Linked DNA regions of Homo sapiens: region 1 is linked to region 2. The links come from fine-mapping of genetic effects on gene expression. Tissue or cell type: whole blood. Region 2 holds a variant in brackets; the other region holds the start of a gene. All regions are shown on one strand. Distances are between the middles of the regions.

Evidence for each region. PIP is the estimated chance that this variant, and not a neighbour inherited with it, causes the effect. A credible set is the group of variants that fine-mapping cannot tell apart.
Region 1: it holds the start of PNMA5, and the variant in region 2 is the best candidate, but not a certain one, in a credible set for the expression of PNMA5 in whole blood (TOPMed, PIP 0.59).

What each region holds. Positions count from the first base shown.
Region 1 is chrX:152,992,716-152,995,622 of GRCh38, reverse strand. PNMA5 (PNMA family member 5) reads left to right here and starts at 1,507. Exons shown (of 4, transcript NM_001184924.2): 1 at 1,507-1,590; 2 at 2,837-2,907.
Region 2 is chrX:152,967,211-152,970,117 of GRCh38, reverse strand. It overlaps ZNF185 (zinc finger protein 185 with LIM domain), which reads right to left. Exons shown (of 25, transcript NM_001395254.1): 22 at 2,880-2,907; 23 at 634-736. Among named protein-coding and RNA genes, the nearest start is that of PNMA5, 25 kb to the left of the region's middle. The variant A/G (reference allele first, on the strand shown) is at 1,369.

The DNA of each region.
Region 1 (2,907 bases), 26 kb before region 2:
CGGTGGCTCACACCTCTAATCCCAGCACTTTGGGAGGTCGAGGTGGGTGGATCACGAGGTCAGGAGATCGAGACCATCCTGGCTAACACAGTGAAACCCTGTCTCTACTAAAAAATACAAAAAATTAGCCGGGCGTGGTGGCGGGCGCCTGTAGTCCCAGCTACTCGGGAGGCTGAGGCAGGAGAATGGTGTGAACCCAGGAGGTGGAGCTTGCAGTGAGCCGAGATCGCGCCACTGCACTCCAGCCTGGGTGACAGAGTGAGACTCCTTCTCAAAAAAAAAAAAAAAAAAAGACAGGCTCTCACTTTGTTGCCCAAGCTGGAGTGCAGTGGTGTGATCTGGGTTCACTGCCACCTCTGCTTCCCAGGTACAAGCGATTCTCGTGCCTCAGCCTCCTGAGTAGCTGGGATTACAGCTACTCAGCTACTCAGATTACACACCCAGCTGATTTTGGGATTTTTAGTAGAGACGGGGTTTCGCCATGTTGGCCAGGCTGATCTCAAGTGATCTGCCCACCTTGGCCTCCCAAAGTGCTGGGATTACAGGTGTGAGCCACCACACCTGGCTGAAGAAGGTGATATCTGCAAATATCTTTCTCAGTGACCATAAATTTAAAATGTTGTCCGCTTTTAACATATTTATTAAAACAGTACCAGAAAAAGCCTTTTCTTTTTTAATCACAGAGAAAGAAAAACAAATATATTCTGTCACTAAAGGTCCACAACTTCTGGCCCTGAAATGTAATCATAGGCTTCAGACCCTTGCTCCACACAGCCTGGGCAGGGATATGCAGCAAGTAACCTAGCTTTCAGTGGAACCATCCCTGCCTCAGATCTCTTCACGCATTTTTTTAAGATTACCAGGGGATTTGTGTGCACCTTGAAGTGTGCTACCTGTGCCGCACCCACACCCTTTTCTGGAACAGTACTTTCGGGCCGCTGCAAGCCGCAGGACCTTCCCTCTGTGGAAGAAACCTGCTTTGGGAAACGACAGGAAGCAGTTTGGGTACTAGGTGCGTAATGTTTGGTCGTGAAATCAGGAGAATAATGGGAGAATGGAATATTTTCAGTCATCTGGCTCTCAGTGAGCAGCGAAAAAAAACTAATGCCCTTGTGAAATGCAGGCAGTAGCTGTATTTTTTGCCCTCCTCCCCTAGAACAGTCCAATAAAAAATAAACGAGGGCTATGACTCGTTTATAAGGGCGCTCACGTGGCCTATACGTTGCACTGGGTGATTTGCACCCGGCCCTTCACCCATGGGCTTGGGACGCCACAGCTCCCCTCCAATGAGGAAGAGCCACAGTGGCTGCTGGGCCAAATGGCACGTGGCGAGCCTGGCTGCCACCGTCGTCGGCACGGGGGTGGGTGGGGTGAGGAACCACCTTGCAGGAAGTAGGAGGGTTTATGTCACCAGTGCGCAACCGTGAGCGGGCCGTGTGCAGTTCCGCTCATGGGGTAGGGGGGCGGTCGTCACCAGACAACCTCTTCCCGCCACAGCCTCGTGGCGCAGTCAGCACGGAGGCGGCAGCCGCCATAGACGTGTGGTGGTCGCGCTGCGCGGGAACTCCGGCTTGGAGGCACCTCCGGCAGGTACGGAGCTGGACCCCGGGCTCGGACAGCAACCCAGATTACGGGGGAACCCCCCAGTAACTCTTGCTATTTTCCACGGGGTCTAGGGGCTGGTGGCCATAGGTTTCCCTGGAGGCGGGATCCCACTAGATCACACCCAGCACGCCAAGGAATCCCTGCCATTTCCAGGCAGAACTTCAGGGAGACCTGGCCGGGCGCGGTGGCTCACACCTGTAATCCCAGCACTTTGGGAGGCCGAGGCGGGTGGATCACCTGAGGTCAGGAGTTGGAGACCAGCCTGGCCAACATGGGGAAACCCCGTTTCTACTAAAAATACAAAAAGTAGCCGGGCGTGGTGGTGTACGCCTGTAATCCCAGCTACTCAGGAGGCTGAGGCCGGAGAATCACTTGAACCCAGGGGGCGGAGGTTGCAGTGAGCCGAGATACGCTACTGCACTCCAGCCTGGGTGACAAAGCCAGACTCCGTTTCAGAGAAAAACAAACAAACTTCAGGGAGACCTATTCCACCCTTGACCTGCCCGGAGACACTGCAGTCAGGATAGTAGCTCTTGGCCCTTGCCCTTGAGGGAAAGTGGCTTCGAACCTTCCCCTCCTAGATTCTGCCTGCTTCCACTGATGTCGGTGGTGTGGGTGTATGTAGATAACCGGGTGGGGATTGGGGGGAGCAGGGGAATGGAGGTAGGGGATTTGGGGATATCAGTTAGACTTGCCTCGGGGTAGGAGTTGGACTTGGTGAGGGGGCAGGGCTTGGGGTAGGAGTTGGACTGTGGGTGGGGGCAGGGCTTGAGGCACGAGTTAGACTTGGGTGGTGGAAGGGGTTAGACTTGGTGGGGGGCTAAGCTTGGGGTAGAGGTGCAACTTAGTTATAGGCAGAGTTTGGCAGCAGGGGTGCAGGTTTTGAGGTGGGGCTTAGGAAGGGTTGCAACATGGCTGTAGGGGCGGAGCTTGGGAGGGAATGGAGTTTGCAGTGGGGGTAGGGCAGCAACCTTACCTTAGGATCCCTTCTGCCCTACCAGCAGCCCCCCTGCCCCCACCCCCTACCTCCCTCCTCACCTCCCACCCCTCTCACCATTCGTCCCCCGACTCCTCCCCCCGCTCCGCTCCCTCTGTCAGTTGAGCAGTTTCTTCTATCCCTGCACCAGGGTCCTAGTGAACACCTATGCAGAGTCTGAATTGGCATGGCCTGGGCAGGGACATGTGTGTGGGACAGAATCACAGCAAAATACCTCTGCTTTGCCTTGGACAGATCCAGTGAAGCAGGACCCATCACGCCTGAGTCAGGAACTGCCTAACTGGATAGAGTTGAAAAGCAGAGCG
Region 2 (2,907 bases):
AGCTGCTAAGTGGGGCATGTTCTGCATTGCAGCACTTACTTAACCAGGAGCAAGCAAAGTTCAGGCCCTGTGGGGAGGACAGAAGCCTGCCTAACATTCTGTCAAGGCAAAGGGGAGGGTTGTTTTTCTCAGTGCACCCAGAGGTGACACCCTAAATGGATTGGAACCAACAACCTGGGGTTACAAAGTGCCACACACTGTGGAGAATGGGGACCCCAATGTCACTTAGAATAAAATCCAAACTCTGTGCCCGCCAAGGCCTACATGATCTAGCCCACTCTGTCACTCCTGGCATTCTCCCACGCAAGCTAGAACACTCTAGTGCTTCTGCCCCAGGGCTTTTGCACTTGCTGGCCCTCTGCCAGAAATAGTCTTTCCTGAAAAGACCTCTTTTGTCTTCCCTACAGTACTAAGCATGCAGAACCACCAACACTCATCTACTGTCTTAGACTTGGAAGCTCATTCAGCTCCCAGTTGTGCAAAGCCTCTGCGACTATGTGCAATTGTATATGGAGATCAAGCCTCCTCCACAGTCTCTGAACCCGTAAGACTCCCGCACTCTACAAAACGTTCTTAGCAGCACGTGATCAGGAGTTACCGCCTAGCTCAAGGTGTCTTCCACCTCTTTTTTACCTTAAAGCAATATTCATGGCAGCAGATACCAAGATGTTCTAGGGTAATCTTTGGACAGTCTCGGATCTCACGGTTGCAGTAAGTACAGATCCCTCCAGTTGTCCTGTGAGATGAAGAACAATAACCCGGTGGTCAGGCTGGTGTACAGACCTCTGATGTGACACAGCCAGACCTTCCAATTTGGTGCAGCCAGGCCCAGGTTTGCTGTCAGGATCCCCAGGATGCCACTGTTTTCTGTGGTGTGCAGCACAGCCCTGGGCCAGATCAGTTCTCAGCCTGCTGTAGACCTCTGCATTATTTCCAAAAACTAGTCATGCATCTTTTTCCAGCTCACAATGACATGTCTCCTGTAGATGTCCTGATATGATACTTATTCCAGACAGTTTGCCTCCCCCTGACCTTCTGCTTAGATTATCCGCTGGGGCCTGCTACCCTCTAGAGCAGGAAGACCAATGCCTTCTCCTACAGGAGACATGTCATTGTGTGCCCTGCCTGGCCCCGTCTTGATGGCCCTTCTCCTCACGCCTGGGCCAACTGAGCTCTGCCCCTGCCTATACTCCTGGACCCACCCTTCATGCTCTGTCTGTAGAGCCTACTCAGATCCGACACTGAAGTTCTAGATACTGACTCCTGGGTTGAGCATCTTTCCAGTTCCAGGATGCCTGTTTCTGAGAGTCACCTCTGCTTTTCTTCCTCAGACTGCACTTCCTCAAAGTAACTGCTTGATCTGATCCT[A/G]CAAGCCAAAATTCAGGGTACTTTCTTCCAGAGATTTGGGTCTGCTTCTGACAGAAGCCCAAGGGGCGGGGGGACATTAACAATCTAGATCCACGTTAGCTCTGTCGGAGGACCCAGAAGTGTCACGGGCAGCTTGGGTGTGGCCCACCATCCTGCTGCTGGCCCAGGGTTCACTCTGGACAGCAGTGCTGCTTGAAATCCTTGCCCTCAGCGCAGCCCTGCTCCTCCTGCTTCTTTCACCACCAGCAGCACCAGCTCACAGCTGTTCTTTGTGTGCGTGCATGTGTGTCTGTGCATATGCATGTGTGCAAGTGACTGAGATTGTCCCTAGAGAGTCCCCTTCCTTCCTCCAAGCCTAGCAATGGATCAGTAATGACTGATTCTGGATTTAGTAGTTGTGCAATGGAAAGGGGGGTCCCTAGAGTATCTGGTTTGTCACTCCACTAGAATTGGAAGCCTCATTCCATTTGCTCCTATGTAAGTGGTTAACTCTCAGGTTTCTGACCAACCTGCCCTTCTCTGCTAAGACTTCATCTGCTGATGTGCCTCACCAAGTAATCTGTAGTTACTCAGAACCACCTGCTTCTTCAGCTATAGTGGAGGAGATTCCCTGGCCCCATATGCTTGTCTGCTCCTATATGTTTGCCTCTGGGGCCCGGTAGGATTCTCTTTATCTTAACCCTCTTACTTCCTTCCTTTTCCTCCCCAATGTAGCTTTGGTCTCTGAATGTCATCCACATGAATTAAGATCTGCCCATCAATGAGAAGCAAGATGGCAGAGTAGAAACATCCCTAACCTGGGAGTAGTCAGGGCCCTGGGGTTTAGTCCTGGGTCTGCCGTATTTGCTTACTGTGGACTGAAGGCTATTTATTCCATTTTCTTCACAGAAGCCTGAGTGAACTCAATCTCTGAGACTCTCTTCTCCCCATTCCAAGAATCTGAACATAAGATTTCTTTGTCATTAAGACTCTCTAGTGACTGTGCCATCATCTAGTGACAGCTTTCAAAACTGCTGAACGAGGTGTTCTCTGCCCCTGCTTTCAATTTGGTGGCTCCACAGCACTGGGCATTCTTGGCTTTGTGTGTCTTTCTGGCTTCTTGATGCCAGCAGCCCATTTTTCTTCCTTCTCTGCCCACTCCTCTCTTTTGTAGTCATTTTATTTTTACTTCTGGTTAGATTTGCAAGTTAATGAAGTGATTGATTAGGTTCTAATCTGAAGGGCCCCTCCTGCTGACACGAGTCCTCTGGGTTGTCAGATGCCACCACTTCCCTTCTCAGTCACCGCTGGTATCTACCCTCTAGTCTTAGCTCAATTCAAAGGCTTTAGTTGTCACAAGTGTGATATCCCAACAAGGGAAGCACCACCCTACGGTAGTGTCCTTCACCTTTCTGCAAATGGATTGGAGGCTGCAAAGCAGAAGACAAAAGCAAACAGACTCAGCAGGAACTCTCCCTTCCCTGATTCTCCTCTGTAGAAGTGCAAGCTCCGTGCTAAGAAAGTCAACATACCTCTCAGAGTATGGAGTGCTGCCACATG